Homo sapiens: one gene and its partners. The protein of the gene in region 1 interacts with the protein of each later gene in a pairwise test. Each region holds a gene or a part of one and is shown in the gene's direction. Other genes may lie near its edges. The genes, in order: BMP2K, SIRT2, FAM120A, SH2D4A, DYNLT3, DLD and ZER1.

What was found.
Region 2: the proteins of BMP2K (region 1) and SIRT2 interact in a two-hybrid assay, tested with the Homo sapiens proteins (one large-scale study listed by IntAct).
Region 3: the proteins of BMP2K (region 1) and FAM120A interact in a two-hybrid assay, tested with the Homo sapiens proteins (one large-scale study listed by IntAct).
Region 4: the proteins of BMP2K (region 1) and SH2D4A interact in a two-hybrid assay, tested with the Homo sapiens proteins (one large-scale study listed by IntAct).
Region 5: the proteins of BMP2K (region 1) and DYNLT3 interact in a two-hybrid assay, tested with the Homo sapiens proteins (one large-scale study listed by IntAct).
Region 6: the proteins of BMP2K (region 1) and DLD interact in a two-hybrid assay, tested with the Homo sapiens proteins (one large-scale study listed by IntAct).
Region 7: the proteins of BMP2K (region 1) and ZER1 interact in a two-hybrid assay, tested with the Homo sapiens proteins (one large-scale study listed by IntAct).

What each region holds. Positions count from the first base shown.
Region 1 is NC_000004.12:78,914,608-78,916,865, forward strand, and holds the end of BMP2K (BMP-2-inducible protein kinase), read left to right. Parts: 3' UTR 1-1,758; downstream 1,759-2,258. UniProt on the Homo sapiens protein: May be involved in osteoblast differentiation.
Region 2 is NC_000019.10:38,893,119-38,896,618, reverse strand, and holds part of SIRT2 (NAD-dependent protein deacetylase sirtuin-2), read left to right. Parts: intron 1-2,463; exon of another isoform or gene 2,464-2,751; coding exon 2,752-2,800; intron 2,801-3,091; coding exon 3,092-3,205; intron 3,206-3,500. UniProt on the Homo sapiens protein: NAD-dependent protein deacetylase, which deacetylates internal lysines on histone and alpha-tubulin as well as many other proteins such as key transcription factors.
Region 3 is NC_000009.12:93,556,185-93,559,684, forward strand, and holds part of FAM120A (constitutive coactivator of PPAR-gamma-like protein 1), read left to right. Parts: exon of another isoform or gene 1-174; intron 175-197; coding exon 198-407; intron 408-1,642; coding exon 1,643-1,826; intron 1,827-2,396; coding exon 2,397-2,534; intron 2,535-3,500. UniProt on the Homo sapiens protein: Component of the oxidative stress-induced survival signaling. May regulate the activation of SRC family protein kinases. May act as a scaffolding protein enabling SRC family protein kinases to phosphorylate and activate PI3-kinase.
Region 4 is NC_000008.11:19,358,693-19,362,192, forward strand, and holds part of SH2D4A (SH2 domain-containing protein 4A), read left to right. Parts: intron 1-2,510; coding exon 2,511-2,622; intron 2,623-3,500. UniProt on the Homo sapiens protein: Inhibits estrogen-induced cell proliferation by competing with PLCG for binding to ESR1, blocking the effect of estrogen on PLCG and repressing estrogen-induced proliferation. May play a role in T-cell development and function.
Region 5 is NC_000023.11:37,838,336-37,841,453, reverse strand, and holds the end of DYNLT3 (dynein light chain Tctex-type 3), read left to right. Parts: intron 1-348; coding exon 349-426; intron 427-802; coding exon 803-879; 3' UTR 880-2,618; downstream 2,619-3,118. UniProt on the Homo sapiens protein: Acts as one of several non-catalytic accessory components of the cytoplasmic dynein 1 complex that are thought to be involved in linking dynein to cargos and to adapter proteins that regulate dynein function.
Region 6 is NC_000007.14:107,894,183-107,897,682, forward strand, and holds part of DLD (dihydrolipoyl dehydrogenase, mitochondrial isoform 1 precursor), read left to right. Parts: intron 1-3,500. UniProt on the Homo sapiens protein: Lipoamide dehydrogenase is a component of the glycine cleavage system as well as an E3 component of three alpha-ketoacid dehydrogenase complexes (pyruvate-, alpha-ketoglutarate-, and branched-chain amino acid-dehydrogenase complex).
Region 7 is NC_000009.12:128,751,428-128,754,927, reverse strand, and holds part of ZER1 (protein zer-1 homolog), read left to right. Parts: intron 1-968; coding exon 969-1,119; intron 1,120-1,327; coding exon 1,328-1,764; intron 1,765-2,078; coding exon 2,079-2,255; intron 2,256-3,400; coding exon 3,401-3,500. UniProt on the Homo sapiens protein: Serves as substrate adapter subunit in the E3 ubiquitin ligase complex ZYG11B-CUL2-Elongin BC. Acts to target substrates bearing N-terminal degrons for proteasomal degradation with the first four residues of substrates being the key recognition elements.

The sequences.
Region 1 (2,258 bases):
TTAACACAGTACCTGGCACACAGCACTCAATAAAAGTTTGGCTCTATTATGGGATGGTTCAATTCTGGTTTAAGGAAGGAAGAAAGGTTATTATATATGTACCACTAAGCAAATATATATATATATATATATTTGGGGTTTTTTTTCCCTAATATTATTTGGGTGTCCCCTGTGCTTCTTTAGGATGTAGTTATAACTAAACCTGTTATACTTGAACATCACTAAGAGAAGTAAATTATTATGAAGCTAGCAAAAATCTTGAGGCCAAAGTTGTTTCTTAACAGCTTTAATAATGCTTGTTGATTTTGAATAATCCTTTAAAAAGTGGACCATTTGCTTATTTTAATATCACGTCAGTAAAATGTTAGTATTAAAAAGATCAGCTTTTTATGGCATTGAAGAATGTATCTGCTAAGACACAAAAATTGCATGGTAAGTATAATAGGTGGAGGAGGAAAGGTTGTAGGCCGGATGAAAATTTAACTGACTAGAACATTTATTCAGGAGTGTAATTATTTTCCCTTACCCCAATCCCTGTGTACGTGTTGGGTATAGTTACGACATTATCCGGATTTGCAAATAGACACAACTTTCAGTCTTACCCTGTTTATTGTTTAAGAGTGATAGACTGTTGTCCTCTTGCTGGTGGAAAATCTAAGGTGGAGCCCACTCTTCTATGCTGAAGTTCACCAGGCAGAGCAGTTTTCTTACAAGTCAGCTACTCTGCTTGGTTTATTTTAGGTTTTGGTACTTCACGTAAGCACTGTTAGAAGGTACAAGTGTATTAATATCACTAGTTTTGAGGCGCTTGGGTACATTTGTTTTTAATATATTTAGAATGTGCAGTAAACTTTTTTCTCATTTTTTTTTCTTTTTAGCAAACTTGTTATTTTAGGTCCAATTATTGAGTTGACAGTCTACTGTGAGAATGAGATGACATATCTACTGTGAGAATACCATAAATGATGAATAGTTTATTTGAGAACTTTTATACTCAGTGGTGTTTTATATATTAAGATAAAAATATGTACACACATGCATGTCACATCTCTCTACTGTGGAGTTAATGTGAATTTTTAAAAAATGGAATTGCAACCACAATCATATCTAAGAGAACATTCACTCCTAGTGAGGGTTTACAAAAGCTACTAAGAGAATAAGGTAGATGATAATGCAAAGGGTCATGATTTGGGGTTATTTTTGTTTTATTTTAAAATTTATACTGCTACTTTTGAAAGAATTGTTTTTATGACTATGCTCTTTTTGTGATTGAAAAGTCATCTAATAGAAGCTGTATAGAAGCTACTTTTTAATTGCTGGCAAACAGCTTTAAGTGCACTTTCTTTGATTACACTTCCATTTTTTGTTAAACTTGAATTTTCTGAAGCCTTTTATGTACCACTAAGCAAATAACTTTAACCTTTAAATAAAGCAAATTTACATCTTTATTGTATTTCTACTTGTTACAAAACATACTTGCTAAAGTAACTTCAGTCCTCAAATATAGCTGGGAAACAATTATGAGATAGACTCAGTCTCCCCCTCCCACCCCTTTTCCCCTGCCATATCTAATTAAGCACTAACTGATTTTATTACTTTATTGCCTTTACACTGCTTATTCTTTTTGACTGAATTCTGTCCCTGATTCACTGTTTTGTTTGAAATTTAAAGTTATTTTCTTACTGTATTTATCATACCTGTTTTAATCTGTTTTCTTTAAATGCAATAAATCCCAAATGGATTGCATATTCTTTATAATCAGTGACTTTGGAGTTTTTCATTATTTGTCTTATTATGACTTTTGGATGTAAACTTCTATTCAAATTCAGTTATTTCATTCACACCACAAACATTAAGCACCTATTATGTAGCAGCTAGTGGAATAGAAAAGTTGCTAAGATTAGATCCCTATTCTTAAGGAGCTCAGAGTTTACAATTTAGGTAAGAAAACCCATTTGACTTAAGAGTTTTTGCCACAAGAACACTTAATAGCACGACTTTTTCAGTGAGTCATAATTACTGATACTCGAGTGATGACAGTAAGGCAAAAACAATATTGTGTAGTGCCTTCTGAATAACTTATTTTACAGCTTCCACATTATAAATTTTTAAAAATCTTTAAAACTGATAACATCTTTGGCTGAATTAATACTGGTTATTTGCTTAAATAACATTGTAATCCTCAATTATATCAGAAAAGAGGCTATGACACATTAAAGAGAAAACCTATTTATTGGATTGATGGACTAAGCTTGGCA
Region 2 (3,500 bases), on another chromosome or scaffold:
GGGCAAAACTGGAAACAGTCCAAATGGCTGTCAGTGGATGGGTTAAATGAACTATGGTTCATCCATACAATCCAATACTATGTAGCTGCTCTGAAAAACGAGGTGAGGCCGGGCACGGTGGCTCACACCTGTAATCCCAGCACTTTGGGAGGCAGGGGGATCACTTGAGCCCAGGAGTTTTGAGACCAGCCTGGGCAACATAGCAAGATGCCGTCTCTTTTTTAAAAAATTATTTTTTAAATTAGGTGGGTCTGTAGCATATTGTTCTGCCGAAAACTCAAGATGTTGTATTGTACTATGACCTATTTCTGTAAAAAATATTAGTTTTATGCAGAGAAAACTGGAGTAATTTCCATTAAGCTTAGCTAACAGTGGTTATCTTTATAAGGGTGGGCTTGGGCAATTACAAGGTGAGTGCCGCAAGTTATATGTTGTTGAAGTATACATGAGTATAATCAAGGTTTTTGCAGAGGTTGTCCAATCTCTCTTTCTCTCTGTCTCTCTCTCTCTCTCATTCTCACTCTCTCTTTCTCTCTCTCTTTTTTTTTGAGACGGAGTCTCGCTCTGTCACCCAGGCTGGAGTGCAGTGGGGTGATCTCGCTGACTGCAACCTCCACCTCCCAGGTTCAAGCGATTCTCCTGCCTCAGCCTCCTGAATAGCTGGGACTACAGACACGTGCCACCATGCCTGGCTAATTTTTTGTATTTTTATTAGACACGGGGTTTCATCATGTTGGCCAGGATGGTCTCGATCTCCTGACCTCGTGATCCACCCACCTCAGCCTCCCAAAGTGTTGGGATTACAGGCGTGAGCCACCGTGCTCAGCCTTTCTCTCTCTTTTTAAATAGAGACAGAGTCTCACTGTGTTGCCCAGGCTGGTCTTGAACTCCTGGCATCAAGCAACCTTCCTGCCTCAGCCTCCCAAAGTGGTGGGATTACAGGCATGAGCCACCACGCCCAGCCGGAGTTGCACAGTCTTAAAAAGCAATTTTTTAAATTGTCGTATGTTCGGAAGGGAGGGTCTTATTCAAAAAGACTTGGACGCAGAGCAGTGAGTATCCGGGGAAGGGAGTTGTCTGAGGTGGTGGCTTGGTCAGAACTGCATTTTGGTGAAATCCATTGCAGGGCCCAGCCGTGGTCCAGCCTGAAGCAGGCATTCATTCCAAGGTAGAGGAGCTCCTGGAGCTCCTGCCAGGAGCCAGACCCTGTTCTCAGTGCTGGGCACCCAGACAAAGTCCCTGCCCTTGTGGACATCCTGGCAATTCCATAGATGTCTGGGAAGACTGCAGAAGCCAGAGAGAAGGGCCTTTGAAGTGGAGAGGGGCGAGCTGACCCAGACAGCCTCACATGCAGGGCAGCAGGGTGGATGGGAGGTGGAGACTGAGGCTGGGAGGCTGGGGGAGGAGGCTGGGGCAGGACCCCCGGAGGAGAGGACAGGCTGGACCAGGTGGAGCGCCGGGGAGGGAAAGGGGGTTGGTGGACAGACCCTTAGGAGGCTCAGCGTACATGCTCTGGAGCTGAAGGGCTGTGGCAGGAGGGCGAGGAGGGAGGCGGGGGCAGGAAACATCTGGCTGATGGGGGGGACAGTACGATCGCATTGAGATGAGGCCTGGGAGGAGGATGGGCTTGGAGGAGATGCCAGGGTCCATTTGGGACATAGTAGGAGTGAGAGGCTGGGGGGCACCTAGGGCAAGGTGTCCAGGAAGCCAGGGAACCCCGGATCTGAGGGCAGAGAGATGGTATCATGAGTGACGAGGCAGAGGTCATTGGCATGGATGAGACAGGTAACCCCAGGAAAGTGGAAAGAGAAAGCAGAGAGGCCCTGGACAGAGTCCCAGAGACCTGCCAGTCTGGAGCTGGGCTGAGGGGAGGCTTCGAGGAAGGAGACAGAGGTTGCTGGAGAGGTGGGCAGAGTGTCTGAGGCCTCGAGCAGGGGGCACATAGGTCCTTGAAGTGAGGGCCAAGGCTTTGCATTGGAATCATTCCCAGAGTGACTTGGGACATTATTCAGAGGCCCCCAGGGCTGCTGGGAAGGGACAGCAGGCCCACGCTCCAGGGGACCCGGGAACGAAGGGAAGACCCCAGGCTGTGATAATAACAGCAACAGCCAGCGCTTACCAAGCACTTCCCCCGCCCCTGGTGCTGCGCCCAGCACCCAAGCTCCCTTTCCAAGGTGAGGGACACCAAGACTTAGAAAATCAAAGTCACGACCAGGCACAGTGGCTCACGCCTGTAATCCCAGCACTTTGGGAGGCCGAGGCAGGAGACTTGCTTGAGCCCAGGAGTTCAAGACCACCCTGGGCAACAGAGGAAGACCTCGTCTCTACAAAGCAAACAAACAAACAAACAAAAAATGAGCCTGGCATGGTGGCACGTGCCTGTGGTCCCAGCTACTTGGGAGGCTGAGGTGGGAGGATCCCTTGAGCTTGGGAGGTTGAGGCTGCAGCAAGCTGTGACTGCACCAGTGCACTCCAGCCTGGGCAACAGAGCGAGACACTGTCTCAAAAAAGAAAAGCAAAGCAAAGCCACTCACATGAGGTCTTGCTCCTGGGGACGGGCATGGCCAGGACTCCAACCCCGGCAGCCTGTCCCAGAGCCCTGGAGCTAGCCCCAGTGCAGTCTCTCCACCACCCCGCACTTCCTCAGGCCACCTTCCTGCCACAGCCTTTTCCCCAAACCTGGTATCACCCCCTCTCCTCCCTCCCTAATCCCACCTCTCGGGCCTGGCCACTCCACCCCACCCCTTCCAGGACTCAGATTCAGACTCTGAGGGAGGAGCCGCTGGTGGAGAAGCAGACAGTGAGTATCTTCCTGGAGGGACAGGGAGCAGGGTTCTGGGGGGCGGGGGGATTTCAGGGCAGGGGTGTGGGTGATACCTCCTCAACTCCATCAGGAGTGACATCCAAAGTATGTAGCAGTGGGTTGGGTACCAGTGCCAGAGCAGGCTCCTGGAGGCCGCTGGCTGGGCCGGGCCTTGTGCCTTTAGATGTGGGGAGGCCGGGAACCCCAGGGCTGGGGCCAGGGTGCCGGAGACATCCATGCCCCTGGCTGAATGCCCGTCCTGCCGCTGTCTCTCTTCTTTCCGGTCAGTGGACTTCCTGCGGAACTTATTCTCCCAGACGCTCAGCCTGGGCAGCCAGAAGGAGCGTCTGCTGGACGAGCTGACCTTGGAAGGGGTGGCCCGGTACATGCAGAGCGAACGCTGTGAGTCCCCTGTCAGGATTGGGCCACTTTGCCTGGCTCCTGGCCCCAAGTGACCTCCCATCCCCAGCCACTTGAACCATTTATTGAAACCTTTTCTTTATAAGTAGCAAGAAACCCAGCTGGAACTGGCTTAAGCCAAAAAGGAGTGTGTTGGCTCTAATCCAGCTTGAAGCACGGCTGGGTCCAGGTGCTTCCACTTTGTTAAAAATCATAACTCTCTCTGATGCTGCTTTTCTTGTTTTGGGGTAAAGGTAACTCCTGGCAGCTGCAAATGCAGGTTCCACTAGCCTAGGAG
Region 3 (3,500 bases), on another chromosome or scaffold:
AAATGTGTTAAATCACATAAGTATTTCTGTTCAAATGAGGCCAGTGTTAGGTCAATATAAGGTAATGGTAGGACTACTTAGTGGTGCTGTTTTGTTGAGGAATATTCTGTTAACTTTGGAGAGTTTTACTAAGACTTTGAAAGAATTTAATACTGTAGTACTCTTATTCCATAGAAATTACTCTTTTCAATTTAAAGATTGAGAACCTAGATCCCCGAGGAATTCAGCTATCAGCTCTCTTCATGAGTGGAGTAGACATGGCCTTGTTTGCAAATGATGCATGCGGACAGCCAATCCCCTGGGAACACTGTTGTCCTTGGATGTATTTTGATGGGAAGCTCTTCCAATCCAAACTCCTCAAAGCCAGCCGGGAAAAGACCCCACTCATTGACCTCTGTGATGGTCAGGTATGCTGCGGGGCCGGGTGGCTGCCTTTAACTGCAATGAAATAAAGCTCACTGGTTAAATCTGTCATCTTTTATACCATATTTATCATCCTGTGTTTCAAGATTCTGTTTTAGGTTGGGCCTGGTACTGAGTGTCACTAAATATCACTTCAGTACCCAGGATGAGCCAAGCTCCTGATATAACATTGTTTCTCATTATTTGTGGTAGTAATGTTCTAAAATTCACCTTGAACGCCAAATTAGTGAATACTGACCATTGCTCCTAGGGGCAATACAAGGTGCTGGGTTCCTTCAAGGCTCTGGTCACATATTTTTGTTAACCAATCAGTATATAATCTTATTTCATGTGCATTTTCGTTAAAGACACCTTATATAATATGGATTGTTGATTCATTATTATTGAACTCACAGCCAGTAGCTTCTGTAACACGTATATTCTCTGTAAGGCACATCACAGCCTCCTTATGCATTTAGGAACACCAGACAGCACTTCAGCACTACACTTGGAGACCATTTTATTTGTTTGTTTGTTTTGGTTTTTTTTTTTTTTTTTTTGAGATGGAGTTTCGCTCTTGTCGCCCAGGCTGGAGTGCAGTGGTGCGGTCTCAGCTCACTGTAACCTCCACCTCCCAGGTTCAAGTGATTCTCCTGCTTTAGCCTCCCTAGTAGCTGGAATTACAGGTGCCTGCCACCATGCCCAGCTAATTTTTGTATTTTTAGTAGAGACGGTGTTTTGCTATGTTGGTCAGGCTGGTCTTGAACTCCTGACCTCAAGCAATCCACCCACCTTGGCCTCCCAAAGTGCTGGGATTACAGGCGTGAGCTGTTGCACCCAGCCAGGGACCATTTTAAACAGTGAAATTACCAACAAAAAAGGACAAAAATGTGAAACACGTGGCACTTAATAAACTGTGAAAAGGATTCTTGTTTTCAGTATGAGCTGAAACAAGAAGGCAAGCGTTGTCTTGTTTGACCTCAGCTGGGGTCAGTGCATCAGGCAACAAAAATCTTTGCCGTGTTCTGCACAAGTCTGCAGACGACCAGAAAACTGCCATAAGTATTGATTTTTGTGGTTACAAATAAACGTTAGCAAGTAGGAGAATTTGCAGACATAGAATTCATGAATAAAGGGAACCAACTGTATAGTTGATAGATCTTATTTCTTTAGTGCTCATTTAAATTCAATTAAAACCCCCTGTGGATGGCATTTTCACATGCTGGTCCTTGTCTTCCAGGCTGATCAGGCTGCCAAGGTAGAGAAGATGCGCCAGAGCGTCCTCGAGGGGCTCAGCTTCTCCAGGCAGAGCCACACGCTCCCTTTCCCGCCGCCACCTGCCCTGCCCTTCTACCCTGCCTCTGCGTACCCCCGGCACTTTGGGCCTGTCCCACCCTCTCAGGGCAGGGGCAGAGGCTTTGCAGGTGAGTTGATTGGGACGTATTCCTGTGGGTAACAGATGCCAGATTCCTGTAAAGAAAGTGCAGCCCTTATAGGCAAGCCCATCTGCTGTGTTGACCTTGTCACTGTTGGTCTTGGAGATCCTGCAGCAGCAGTTCTTCAAGTCCGTGAGGAGCAAGTTTAATCCTGGAGATAGGGGAGAGGGACCTGCTGATGCAGATGCAAAAGCTGCACCGTAAAATCTGTCAATCAAGCTGAAAACTCTGCTCACATTTTAAGATATATTTGTTTCTCATGTGTAAGGGAAAATAAACCCACCCAGGTCAGAGAGAGCCATCTTCCAGGACTCATCTCCCAGGGCCCTTCCTGAGCCCCATGCTAGTGCCCTGTTGAATGACCCACTGCAGGGAGGGTGGCCTTACAATACTGGTCCCCAGGGACCATGGGCACAGGACAGTGAGGTGACAAGAGGGGCCAGGAGACCCCTCCATGGCAGCTGGAGGAGGCAGGGGCCACTCTGCCTGAATACCCAGCAGGGCCCTGAGTCCTGTCCCTTACACTTCTCCCCTCTCTCTCTACCCCGGGTCCCACAGGCGTCTGTGGCTTTGGAGGCCCCTATGGGGAAACGGTAGCAACAGGCCCTTACCGTGCCTTCCGTGTGGCGGCAGCATCGGGACACTGCGGAGCCTTCTCAGGCAGTGACAGCAGCAGGACTAGCAAGTCCCAGGGCGGTAATTATACCCACCCCTTCCCAGAGCTTCTGCCTGCCAGCACTTCCTTCGCTCCATCGTCTGGCGCCTTCCTTCCTCTACTGTCCTCATGAGCCCCTCCTCCAGCAGAACGGCCTTTCTTCTGGGTCCCCGCTCTGACCCTCATTGACCACTCCTCCTGAGACTCTCTGCTCTCAGGTCTCAGCAGCGGCTCTGCTGTGGCCAGTCTCTCCTTTCAGGGTAGACCACTGAGTGTCCACCTAGAACAGAACCTTTCTGTGCACCTGGGTAACCTGACCATCGCCTCGTGTTCATAGGATGAGCTGCTAATAGTGGCGTTTCTTTCCCAAGCAGCCATCTTTTGGTAAAGATTATCATGCTTGTATAGAAAATGCTAATGGTCACAGAATTCCTGACATAAAAAGTCTGTCACAGTTTGTTTCGCAGAAACATTTTTAAACAAAGATCTAATGTTGGGCATATAAACAAGGCAGTTTACTGTAGATTCCCAGTGCTTCTCTTTGCATTTGTATTAGGCTTGCAAAAGAGAAAAGGGTCTTAACATTTAGCATAGGAAGCAATGTCTTGTGATGGTGCTGTAATTGGAAGTCAGTGACCTGTATCTTTGTCCTAATCCCACATTTTGGGACTGCAGATCTAAATCTGCCCATCAAGTCACATAACAGGATTAACTGTTCAGATGTGATTTTGGAGTTGCATTGAGGATGGGCAAGCCTTTCTCTCTTGATCAACAATGTTTTTCCAACTCAGTTACATGGGATAGTTAGGGAGGCCAGCAAGGGAACTGTGCGGAAAGGTGACTTGCAGATTTGGCGACGGGTCAGCCCCTCTGTCTGCAGGTCACCTCTCCTTTCCCTGGTGCAGCTGCATGCCTCTCTGCCTCCTCTGTCTGCCCACCAGCCTCCTGCAGTGTGCTACTCTGCTCTGTGACTGCTCCTCATGCAGCTCGCAGCCATGTTTCCTCTC
Region 4 (3,500 bases), on another chromosome or scaffold:
AAACAGAGGCATCCTCCTTTGGGGACACTTGTGAGGCTCTGATGAAGGAATTGGTGGGGAGGCATTCTAAGTGCTTCCATCAACAGGCTGGACAAGAGGCTTTCTGAACGGGCCCAGCGGCTTTCTATATGGGCCCAGCGTGCCCTTGTTTTCTGGTACTGTTAGCTGAACACATTTTCACAGCTCACACCACACATCTGGGTCTCCACACCTTCCACCCTGGGCATCTGGATTAGCATCCAGCCTCGGCCCCTCCGCCCCTCCACTCCAAGCCATCACCTGGATTTCCCCATGCCTGGCTGACAGTCCTGAGTCCTGGTCCAACATGCTTCCAGCAAAACACTGCTGAAAAGGAAATGATGGTCTTCTGAATAGAGAAAGTAAACCATTACAGATTTTGATAAAAGTAAAATTCTCTCAGAGACGCAGGACAAGTTCCTTACGTTTTCTAGCTTTCTTGAATAAATACGGTGGTCAGGGCCGTATATAGATGGGTAATAGCAGATCTCATCTGCTATTACTCTGTGAAACTCGTTAATTTTTCTTCTTTTCCACTGTGCATGTACATAATTACATGCAGATTAAAGGAGTAGATTTATTAAATATAGCTCTGTTAGACATTTGAGTAACATCAACCAAGTACTACATCTGTTATTATTAATATTTTTTCTTAGGTAGAATCATGTCATGTTCCAAATTTCTTGCTTATCCTCAGCAACAATATCCATGATGATCATAGCTTGATGTTTTCACTATATGTTTCCTAACCGTTTAAAAATAAACACGTATGCATGTGGAAGGATGAACAAAGCTCCACTTTGAAGCTTTTTCTGTTTAAGCTTAGAAATTGCTAGCAGCACATGTATCTATCTTGGGCTGGCAAACAGCTTCAATCAAAGGATGGCAAATTTTAACAGTCCTTTCAAACATCAAAGCTGTCCTTTGGATTTTCAAATGTTGGCAAACAAAAGGAGCTTAGCTCTAGGCAGGAAAACAGTGTAAGGAAAAAAAAATGAAAACAGTAAATGCACAGAAGTTTAGTTACATCTGCAGTGAAGCACAATTTATGAATGATGATTACTTGAACTGTGATTTATGACTGCCCAGAGCGATCAGAAACAAGTTTCACAATATTAATGTTTATACTTTACGTTGTGGTGACATAATAGCAAGGAAGTCTTTACATTTCTGTGGGAAAGCACAAAATTAAAAAGCTTGTCACTTGTGATAGAGAGGTGGGCACAGGCAGCCCTTTCTGGCCATTTCAGTTTGTTTTATTGCTTAGCTAACCAAGGCTTTTATTAGTCCACCAAACTGTAAATTCAGTCGTCTTGTGAGCACTCAGAAGGTTGTGTCCAAATAAGCAAAGTACTTTTCAGGTCTAAGTGATTTGGTTTGTTCATTTCTCTTTCGTTTAAAATGATTTCCGTTGAATGCTCTTAATGCCAGAAAACAGTACACTAAAAAATGGTTAAGGTGGTAAATTTTGTTATGTGGAATTTTACCCTAAGTTTTAAAAACCTAATTCTCCTTTTAAAGGAATATTTACATTTTGAAAGTATTTCTCCCTTCTCAAAAGATGCTTTTGAAAAATATTTTTCTGTTTTTTTTTTTTTTTGAAACAAAAAAATACATATTCTGGCAGGGTGTGGTGGCTCATGCCTGTAATCACAGCACTTTGGGAGGCTGAGGCAGTGGATCACTTGAGGTCAGAAGTTCGAGACCAGCCTGGCCAACATGGTGAAACTCCATCTCTTCAAAAAATACAAAAATTACCCAAGTGTGATGGCACTTGCCTGTAATCCCAGCTACTCAGGAGGCTGAGGCAGGAGAATCGCTTGAACCTGGGAGGCAGAGGTTACAGTGAGCCGAGATTATACCACTGTACTCCAGCCTGGGCGAAGGAGTGAGGCTCCATCTTAAAAAAATAATAATGATATATATTTCTTTTGAAACACTTAAAATCATGTAGTAAGTACCACATTTTGGGACACATGACTCGGGGGAGAGATTCAGCTGAGATTGCTCTGGGAATGTGCATTTCTTCTGTGGAGTCTGTCAGCTACTGTAAAGTAGGTTGATGCTAGTTCTATGTAATAGTGTGTTTACATCCTTCAGGGAGTCAGTTTGAAGCAGCTAAGTACTGTGTCTGAGGAAAAGGAATATTTTTTCTTACTATATGTTATACACTGTGCCAGGGACTTCTTAAGTTATCTAATCCTCAATATAACCCTAAGAAATATTTTTTTCTCATCTTTCTTATGGGGAAACAGCCCAAGAGAGGTTCATTTGTTGCTCCTGGAGTTACACACTAGCTAGCAATGGTCAGTCTTACTTCAGGTCTTACTGACTCCAAAGTCCACACTTGATCCTTCCTAGTGGGCCAGAGAGTTAGATAGAAGTCAGCTGTGCCGGGTACCCCGTCCTTCAGGAAACTGCTGGATTTGCTCACCAAGGTTCTTTTTTTGTTTTGTTTTGTTTTTGTTTTTTTTTGTTTTGTTTTTAAACAGAAGAAAGAATCTATGAAGAAAAAACAAGATGAAGAAATAAATCAAATAGAAGAAGAGAGAACGAAGCAGATTTGTAAGAGCTGGAAAGAAGACTCGGAATGGCAGGCATCTCGTGAGTACCCAGAGGTCTCCATAGCACCTTCCAGGCTCTCAGCTGATTCTCTCCCTTAATAATGTGATCAATCTAGAAAGCGCTTAATGTGGGTTGTTGAGAGATATGTTCACAGTAAGTTACCACTCAAATGTTATTACTAACTTATTACTCAAATGCTTACAGGCTACTTTTGAACAGCAGACTCGTTCTCCATTTATTTCTGTATCACCAAAATTATGATGTAATTTATCAAATAGCATGATATATAGCTATGGAAAATAGGTTTTGGAGAGTGTTTAATGATCTTAGACTGTTTATATCTCATTAGCTTGGGGAAGAAAAAACACCATGAAATAGAATGAAAAGCTTCGCTATTTAGAAATGTCTAAGTATCTGAAGGAAAAGAACTGGAAGGTTATAATAACATGTAAACATTAGTTTTCTTGGAAAGGTGAGATTCAAGATTATTTATTTGAATGTTTTTCTTGTAATTTAATATTGTGTTTTGGATTTTTTTTCCCCTAAATTTTTGATAGTGAATACATTTTAACTTTGTAATCAGAAGCACACAGGAATACCAGGCTGGATGTGTTAGCATCCCGCTCCTGCCTGTGACCCAGCCTTGACTCCTATTTGAGTGAGCAGAATGGGTGAGAAAACTCATAGGAGAAGAATAAGCCCATGCAACTGAAGGCAGAGGAGAGGATGCTCCAGAATGCTAGAAGAATTAGGTTTGTGAAAGAATTAGTGTTTCCATCTGACTCAGAGAAATCTGAACTGCTAGATCAACCTGAGGTGGCTTGAGGAAGACAGCAGGTATGGCTATATTTGCAGGATGTTGAGATCCTACATTGATCTGCAGTCCCATTACAACCAATGCCATTTAAATGACAACT
Region 5 (3,118 bases), on another chromosome or scaffold:
ACTGTTTATAAAGTGGAGTATTTCCTGCATTTCTGTGTCTGAATTCTGCCCATGGTACAAAGCACAGAATTTGACTGATATTTTTCCTGCAATACAATCACCAATGGTAATGACAATGGTCAGAAAACCAACTGAATCCAGTGGGGTCAAAATCATGATGGTAGATAAAGATGAGAGTCTTTTATTTTTTTTTCAATCTATTTGCTGAACGCTTTGTTTTCTGTTTTTTGTTTGTTTGTTTGTTTTTTGTCTTGTTTTCGGCTTGTAGAGCTCTGAACTCACACACTTTGACCTTGGTTCTCTTTTCCTTTGTCTGTAAGTGCCCTCATTCTGTGACTTTATTTGCAGTGACCTGTGCAGTGGTCCAGAAGAGCGCATATGGCTTTCACACAGCCAGCTCCTGTTTTTGGGATACCACATCTGATGGTAAGAGATCTTAAGCTGATTTACACAAAATCCAACTTTTAGCAAAGTCAAACTGCACTTTTTAACCAAGTACTTATTTAATTCTGATTAAATTCTGAAAAGACTATCAACAGTATTGCTTTGTACCTAGTAACAAGTATACCTTCAGACCGATATGAAATGTGAAAACTTAACAGGTTGAAGGAAATAAGATATTAAAACATGTGAAAAATGTATGTGTATATATATATATATATATGTGTGTGTGTGTGTGTGTGTGTGTGTGTGTGTGTGTGTATATGTGTGTGTGTGTGTGTGTGTGTGTATATATATATATATATTCTCTGATAATTTTTATGTTTTGCTGGTATTTCAAAATCCTTTTTTTGTGTTTCAGGAACCTGTACCGTAAGATGGGAGAACCGGACCATGAACTGTATTGTCAACGTTTTTGCCATTGCTATTGTTCTTTAACTGACTAAAAATGTTGGGCTAAAGCCATTAACTTAAGAATTTGTCAGTGTATCCTTTCCAAAAAGAGTAATAGTTGTTTACTAGTGTGCTAGATGAAAAGCGTGCAATATGCTTTAAAGCTATCAACAAAAACTGAATATTATAAGCAAGCAATATCATAGTAATTGGCAGATTAGCTCATATTCTATACAGCATCGTTTAAATAGGAAAAATTTAATGCTAGCAAAAAATAAATTTAGAAATATGGCATGACATGAAAATACAATCTTATATTTACACCAGCTTTTCACTAATATTTTGTACCTAAGGTGATGGGGAACTCCATTCAGATAATAAAATTCTCTTTCAGCTAGAGAAGTTAACAGGAATAAATATATGAACAAAAAAGCTGCAAGGATAAATGTGGAGAAAATGATGAGAATTAGCTAACATTTTTAAGTTTTTTTAAACTTTCTTCCCCTCAGTTGTACTTAATATTTAGTGGAAAGTAATAATTTTTTTAATTTTCTATCAACTAATAGTATAGTAACAACTATGATTAACTTGTTTACTTTTTCTGAGGATTAGTAAATCAATTTTTTTTAATTTCAAATTTTTGGATTTACACTTGAGGGTAAATTAAATCTGGTAAACTGAATTTCCTAGTTAAATAAAATTAGTTGCAGTATATGATGAACAGTGTATGACTCAAACAGCTGCCTTACAATTCACTCATTCCATGTGGAACAAACATTTATCAGATGCCTATTATGGGCATATGTCTCTGCTAAGCACCATAGTTGTCAATGTGCTGTGCAAATGCTAAGTTCCTTTTAGCAATTGTTCAGTTGGAAGACGTATTAATATTTGGGGAAGGAAAAGAAAGTAGTTGTTTTACAAGGGAGGAAAAAAGTGAATCTGGTTACACATATGGAAGTAAGCAAAATGAAAAGCACTTATTGCTTTCTGACAGAATTATAGATGTAATTTTAAGAGTTGCTCCTAGCAAGTTAAAAGTGCATATAAAATATGCAACTCTTAGTTAAAGGCCTTATTATCAGTCTTACCTATACAAGTAGTAAATTTTGTCATTGCTTTAGTTACAACCATCTGTAAATAACTTAAAAGACTTATTATGTGGGGTTCAAATTGAGTGGAATAAAGTATAGATTAAAAGTATACAATCCTTAGCACGTTATCTCAGGGCTTATGAAATGTAATTAAATTTATTAAGAAAATAGATGAAAAATTAGGGTACACAGCTGGCCACCAAATGCGAAGTCAATCTGCTACTTAACCCTGAAAACAAAATCAGTTTTGCATATTACCACTAACACTAATACATATAGAGAGCGGAACCATAACTCATTGAATTTTGGAGAGGAATAAGCTTAGCGTTAATATTGACAATATTAAGGCAATATTCTTGTAGGAATACTATGTGCATGTTTGATATTTTGCCAAATAACAATAATTAATAATTGTTCAATGTTTAAGAATAATATTAACAAAATAAAGGAGTTTAATGCAGTGATCTTTGTTTTTGGCACATCAAAAATTCTCAGTCATTATTCATGTTTCTTTATGCTGCTGGCTTTTGTGCCCTGGAAGATCATAATAGTGACCAAAATATACATGCAGACTTGTTTTTTATTATTGTTGTTTAAGCATAATTTAAGAAAAAAAATTTTTACCTGGTGAACTTGCTATCTGCTCTGTTTCTAGTTAAAATATAATAAATATTATCTTCCTGTGCTGTACTTTTGCTTCTGGATAATCATTTAATAGTTAGAGAAATGACATTCTGCTTGCTCTTAGAAATTCTAAATAGAAGAAATGCTGGGGGTGGTGGCTCACACCTGTGTAATCCCAGCACTTTGGGAGGCAGGTGGATCATTTGAGGTCAGGAGTTTGAGACAAGCTTGGCCAACACGGTGAGACCGCATCTCTCTTAAAAATACAAAAATTAGCCAGGCGTGGTGGCACACATCTCTAATCCCAGCTACTCAGGAGGCTGAGGCAGGAGAATTGCTTGAACCCGGGAGGCGGAGATCGCAGTGAGCCGAGATCGTGCCACTGCACTCCAACCTGGGCAACAAAACAAGATGCCGTCTCAAAAAAAAAAAAAAAGAAAAAAGAAAGCAATTCTAAATAGGATAAATGAATATGGGACCACATAGATATATTATGCATATTATGCAGAATAAATACCATTAAAATAGCAGCCCAAATCCAGTATTTACCATTACAACATAATTAA
Region 6 (3,500 bases), on another chromosome or scaffold:
CCTGTCAGTACCAAGGATATTGATTATTTGCAATGTACTGTTTTGACATTTACTGAATTCACCCATATGGATTATAAGTAACATTGGATGTCTTAAAGCTTCAGTTATAGAAATCATTATCTGGGCAAACTGTGACTATCAGTCTCCCTGCATTCTGTGAAGTAATTTAATCCTGTATCCTCAACTGTTATCCAACCATTATCATTTTGGATATTTTATTTCTAGAGGAAGGGTAGGGGGAGGATTCTAGTAACCCATGACTAACAGTGAGTGAGTGATTTATTCTAGCTTTGAACAGGTCAAGAAATCCTTTTAAAAAAATGCTAATATGATGATGAAGGGAAAAGTTGGACCTCTTATACACTTTGTCTCTTGTTAAATAGGAATCTCATTCTTCTCAACTCATATAACAGGAGAAATGTTAGATTTTCATTTCTAAAGGATATTTTTCATGGCTAACTCTATACCTTTGGCATCACTCAGCAGAGATTATTCAGTGCCTTCTATTTGCCAGGCAGACCCTGAGCCAGAACTTAGATTTTAGTGGAATGAGGCTGAGTGTTCCATAATCAGTTTGGTGATCCCTTGACATTGAGTAAATCATAAATCACTTAGTACCCATGTGTGTAAAGTGTGTAAAAGCTTTGAGTGGATGCAGTAACAAGCATTTTACACACATACTTGTATTTTATCTGAGGTACATGCTTACTGTCTTTTCCTCAGGAATGCAAACTTCATCAGGACAGGGACTGTGTGTGACTGTTTTGTTTAGTATCTAAAGTGATACAGTAGGTAATCAGTACATATTTATTGAATGAATGAACACTGGGGCCTGGTCTGTTTTAATTACTGCTCTGTGGCAAAGCATCCAGTATGGTGTCTTGTACAAAGTAAGTAACCAGCTACAACAGCAATAATATTAACTGATGCATTGAGGGCTTCACTCTGTCTCAGGCACAGATTTAATCCTCATGGCCTTTCTACTACCTGTGTGCTGCTGTTCTCCCCATTTTATAGATGGAAGAGTTAGGTTTTTTAACTAGGAAATGACAGAGCTGGGAGAATCCTTTTGACTTCAGAGCCTACACTGTTAATGTTTTATTGAGTTTTCTTCCTTACATGAGTATTGATTGACTCTCCTGAGGAGTTCAAATCTTATTATGATATAGTCTTGGTTACAACATCTGAGAGATGTCTGAATAGCCTTATGAACCAGGTTCATCAGAATTTGCAAAGTTGTGTGTGTTACTGTTGATGTGACGTTTTATTTCATGACAGCACTTAATCAAACTTGTAACACTTAAACTTACAGCACTTATATCACTCACATTCACTACATTCATTCATTCTTTTATTATTTCGACAAATACTAATATCTACTATGTGTTAGTCATTGGGCTAACTACTGGAGTACCGCAGTGAGCAAGACGGACAAGACCCAGCTTTTATAGAGCTTACAATTCAGTTGAGGGAGACAAACATCCAACATATAATTGTGACAGGGGTCCATAGACTTAAGCATAGGGAGTAATGACATCTATATATGGATTGGGAATGGTCACATAATTCTTTCCTAAGGAATTATGTTGATAGCTAAAAAGGTTGAGAGTAACTCTCGTTACAGGTTGGACCTTTTACTGTAATTCTTTTTTTTATTTAGACTGTAAGAAATAGGGCTATGTCATTTATATATACACACACACAGACACAGCATGTGCAGACACACCCCTCCAAGAGCCTAAAGTAGTGTTTGTAATGTGAAATGCCTGCTGTTAGTGTTTATTTCTAGGTAGATGGAACAGATCGTACATAGGTAGACCAGCATAATTCTATGCATGTAGGCTAAGAGTAGTAATTCACCGTTACTGAAGCTTAAACTGCATGGTATTGGTGAGTAAACAGAACGTGGTAGGAGATGAGGCTGGAGAAATAGTTACTGAAGGAATTTGGATGCTGTACTTAGGAACATGGGCTTTATCTAACAAGACACTGGAGAACCAACAGAGCGTAACAACAGAGAGAATAACATCTGAGTTGGGTTTTAGCTTTGCGGTAGCACTGGGTAGGCTAAAATGGAGGATGTGAATGAGGCTAGAGGCTGCTGGACTGAAGTTTGGAGGTGGATCTGAGAAGGGGAGTGACACTGAGTTGCTAGTATGCACCTAGCACCTCCTTAGGATCTTAACATGCGTACTCTCTGATCCTCACAACCCTAGGCTGCAGGTGTCATCCTTACTATTACCCCCATGTTGTATCAAAGCCCAGAGAGATTGAGTAATTTGCCCAAGAACTTAACGGGGTTAGAGTTTGGAACCCAGGTCTGTTTTACTTCAGATCATTTCTTATTTTACTATATTTCTTCTTTAGGGACCAGGAGGTTATGACTAGAAAGTAGAGTATTGATTTCAGAGGCTGAACAGTTTTGGGTGATAACAAGTATAGAGTGTTAACTATGGGAGGAGGTTACTGAAAAAGACTGGATATTAAGGCCATTGACAATGTAAAAACAACTTCCCTTACCCCTCAACAAAATGTCAACAAATAAACCTTATCAAGTAGTTCTTACATTCAGTAAATTTGGTAATTAATGATTATTGCCTTATGACATCTCTTTTCCTGTTCGTTTTTTCTTTTTAAAAATCTGGTTTTGTTTTTGTTTGTTTTTTTTTTTGAGACAAAGTCTCGCTCTTGTCCCCTAGGCTGGAGTGCAGTGGCGTGATCTTGGCTCACTGCAACTCCACCTCCCGGGTTCAAGTGATTCTCCTGCCTCAGCCTCCCGAGTAGCTGGGATTACAGGTGCCTGCCACCAGCCCGGCTAATTTTTGTATTTTTAGTAGAGATGGGGTTTCACCATGTTGGCCATGCTGGTCTCGAACTCCTGACCTCAGGGGATCCACCCACCTCGGCCTCCCAAAGTGTTGGAATTACAGGCATGAGCCACCGCGCCTGGCCAAAAATCTGATTTTACCTTTATTTTGACATGTGCCTCTTTTTTCTCACTGTGTTTTAAGGTTATTGAAGGTACTGATGAGTCATAAATATTTGATTTCATTCTGTAAAGCATATTCTTGTCATTTTAGTTGAAGTTCTTGATTGTCCTGGAGATTATGGGATCATCTGAGTGTTTTGGAAGGCAATAGAACATAATGGTATATAGGAGCACACATTTCAGAATCTAGAGGACCTTGTTTGAATCCTGGCTAGATTACTTACTAGTTGTGTAGCCTTATGCAAATTATTTAGTTGTTTTCAACCTTTTCTTCCTCTGTTAATGGTAGTATTAAACTATGTCATAGAAATGTAATGAGGCTTACATAAGACAGTACACGTGACTGGCTCACTAACTGGCACATTTTAAGCTACCCAAGTGGTAGGTATTATTGTAGACTGACTTTTTTTTTTTTTTTTTTTTTTGAAACTTGGTCTCACTCTATCATGCAAGCTGGGGTGCAATGGTGCGATCTTGGTTCACTGCAACTTCCACCTCCCGGGTTCAGGAG
Region 7 (3,500 bases), on another chromosome or scaffold:
AAAATCTGAATGGCCCTCCGAGGGCCTCCCCACTCCTAGGGGCTCCTAGAAGCATGCTATGCAGTCACTGAATGCTGGGAGTTCAATCTACAGGCCCAGATGGTGGCCAGGCATGGTGGCTCACACGTGTAATTCCAGCATTTTGGGAAGCCAAGACAGGAGGATCACTTGAGACCAGAAATTCAAGATCAGCCTGGGTGACATAGCGAGACCTTGTCTCTACCAAAAAAAAAAAAAGAAAAAGATTCCCAGAAGGGAAATTATTAGACAGCTGCATAGGAAACTAGAAGCCTGTGTGGGCCTGAGGACAGAGGTGGACCTGTAATAACGTCCTGAGCATTTACCGTGGGTCAGGCTTTAGGTTGGACACTTTGCAGGCCATAGTTATATCCACTTTACAGATGAAGAAACTGAGGTCTGGGAAAGTTCATTTACTTGTGTGAAGTTGCCCAGGTAGGAAGCAGCCAAGCCAAGATTTAGAGTCTAAAGCGTTTGAATCCAAAGCATTTCCCAGCAGACCAGGATTCTTGCATGAGCTGATGTCTCAACAGGGCTTCATTAAGGGCTTGTCCTGTACCCAGCTGGGAACTCTGAACTACTTGGCTTAGTTTGCCTGTTTAAAAGGGTCGCAGGAGGGGCTTAAAGAAGGTGACGAGAGTGGCCATGCCAGTGGGGCTGCTGCCCCTGCAGTGTGCGTGCGTGGAGGCTGTGTGACAGGCATGTGCACTGGGAGAGATGGCGCCTGCATCACCTAGAAGGTCTCCCAGAGAGCTGCCTTTAGATTCCTGGTTCCTGGGCACCCTTAATCTTACTGGTAGTTTAGTCAGGATCTGACCAGATACTCTTAGGAGAAGGAGGTTGCTACTTGGGGTGATCCAAGAAAGCTTCAGGGGGAGGAGGGCTTGGCTTTGAAGCGAGGATGAGAGTCCCTGTGGCCCTCTCCTGAGCCAGGCTTTTTTCTCTCCCAGGTATGTGGAGCTGGTGAACGCTGCCTGTAACTTCGAGCCACACGAGAGCTTCTTCAGCCTCTTTTCGGACCCCCGCAGCACCCGCCTCACGCGGATCCACCTCCGTGAGGACCTGGTGCAGGACCAGGACCTGGAGGCCATCCGCAAGCAGGTGAGACCTGCCCCGCCACAGCGCCAGGAGGGCCCACACCAAGCAGGGGCCAGGCTGCTCGCCTCCAGCCCAGCCATCCCCAGCCCAGCCAGTGTGCACCGTGACTGTGCACATCCCCCTTTCCAACCCACCTGTAGCCCAGGGCAAGGCCTGGGGCCGGGGGAAGGGGCAAGGGTGGTGATGATGATGGAGCTGTGCCCACTCCCAGGACCTGGTGGAGCTGTACCTGACTAACTGCGAGAAGCTGTCCGCCAAGAGCCTGCAGACACTGAGGAGCTTCAGCCACACCCTGGTGTCCTTGAGCCTCTTCGGCTGTACAAACATTTTCTATGAGGAGGAGAACCCAGGGGGCTGTGAAGATGAGTACCTCGTCAACCCCACCTGCCAGGTGCTGGTTAAGGATTTCACCTTCGAGGGCTTCAGCCGCCTCCGCTTCCTCAACTTGGGCCGCATGATTGATTGGGTCCCTGTGGAGTCCCTGCTGCGGCCGCTTAACTCCCTGGCTGCCTTGGACCTCTCAGGCATTCAGACGAGCGACGCCGCCTTCCTCACCCAGTGGAAAGACAGCCTGGTGTCCCTCGTCCTCTACAACATGGACCTGTCCGACGACCACATCCGGGTCATCGTGCAGCTGCACAAGCTGCGGTGAGCTCCTGGCCCAGAGCTCACCAGGGTGGGGTTTGGGGGGCAGGTGGGGAGGAGTAGAGGTGGGTGTTGTCACGCCCTCAGGGTTCAGGAGCGCTTGGCTAGGCAGAGGGTGGGGATGAAGACACAGTCCCATTCCTTAAACCCAGTGTTTCAGCTGGATTGGGGCTGTTTGGGGTTTCTTCCCAGAATGCCCTGGGGAAGTTGTGGCAGGAATGGGCCCTCCCCTGCTACAGACTAAAGGAGCTGGGATCTGCAAGGCAGCCCCACCCTGTACCCAGCTCCTAACCTGCACCCCCTACCCCAATCTTCAGACACCTGGACATCTCCCGAGACCGCCTCTCCAGCTACTACAAGTTCAAGCTGACTCGGGAGGTGCTGAGCCTCTTTGTGCAGAAGCTGGGGAACCTAATGTCCCTGGACATCTCTGGCCACATGATCCTAGAGAACTGCAGCATCTCCAAGATGGAAGAGGAAGCGGGGCAGACCAGGTGGGGCCCCAGCCTCCATGGCTACTGGTAGGGTGTCATTCAACAGGCATTTAGGCTGGCGCAGTGGCTCACGCCTGTAATCCCAGCACTTTGGGAAGCCAAGATGGGCGGATCACTTGAGGCCAGGAGTTAGAGACCAGCCTGGCCAACATGGTGAAACCCCATTTCTACTAAAAATACAAAATTTAGCTGGACATGGTGGCAGACACCTGTAGTCCCAGCTACTTGGGAGGCTAAGGTATGAGAATTGAAGCCGGGAGGCGGAGCCTGCAGTGAGCTGAGATCGCGCCACTGCACTCCAGCCTAGGCAACAAAGTGGGACTTTGTCTCAAAAAAAAAAAAAAAGAAAGTATTTGCCAAGTACCCCTCTGCCAAGTGCTGTGCTGGGTGCTAGAGATAAAGAAACAAATCAGGTCCTGCCCTCTTGGAGGCTGTGTGAGCTGGTGGGGACAATCAAGTCATTACAAGGGCTATGGTAGGGGCAATCCAGGGCCCCGGTGTGGCCTGAGGATCAGGAAGGAAGGAGGAGGAGGGACGCATCCTGGCTGTCCTGAAAGCTCATTCTGCCTCTGCCAGAGGAAGCGTGTTCTAGCAGAGGGAACAGCACCTGCAAAGGCCAGTAGGTGAGAGCATGAGGAGCGACAGGGGAACTACCCAACACTCAGCCTGACCAGAGCACAGTGCCATGGGGGGAAGAGGCAAGGCTGGCAGTGTCTGCCACCTATGGAGTATTGCTGGACATAGGTCGGTTCTTGGATTGGTTGGTTGAGAAGTTTGACCAAACCCTACCAGCTGTAACTGGCCACCCATAAGCCCTGGCCCCAGCCTGCTTTAATGGTGTTCAGTTGAGCTTGTCCCTTTGTGATTGTTGGTGAGACCTAAAGGTGCCATGTCCTTACTAGAATGGCAGGTGGTTTCTAAAGGTGGCTGCATTGCCCATCCTATGTGTTCCCCTACTATGTGGCTTTGCCATGCTTCCATCAGGAGGTGGTGCTTATGTCCCCTACCATTAAAAACAAAAGGAGTAGGGGATGAGGTTGGAGGGCCTAGAAGAGAAAGCAAGGAAATGCCTCACCACCCCCAGTGGGGAGGCCCAGCTCAGGCCTGGGTCCCAAGCCACTGACACCGGCACCCTCTTTCCCCAGCATTGAGCCTTCCAAGAGCAGCATCATACCTTTCCGGGCTCTGAAGAGGCCGCTGCAGTTCCTCGGGCTCTTTGAGAACTCTCTGTGCCGCCTCACGCAC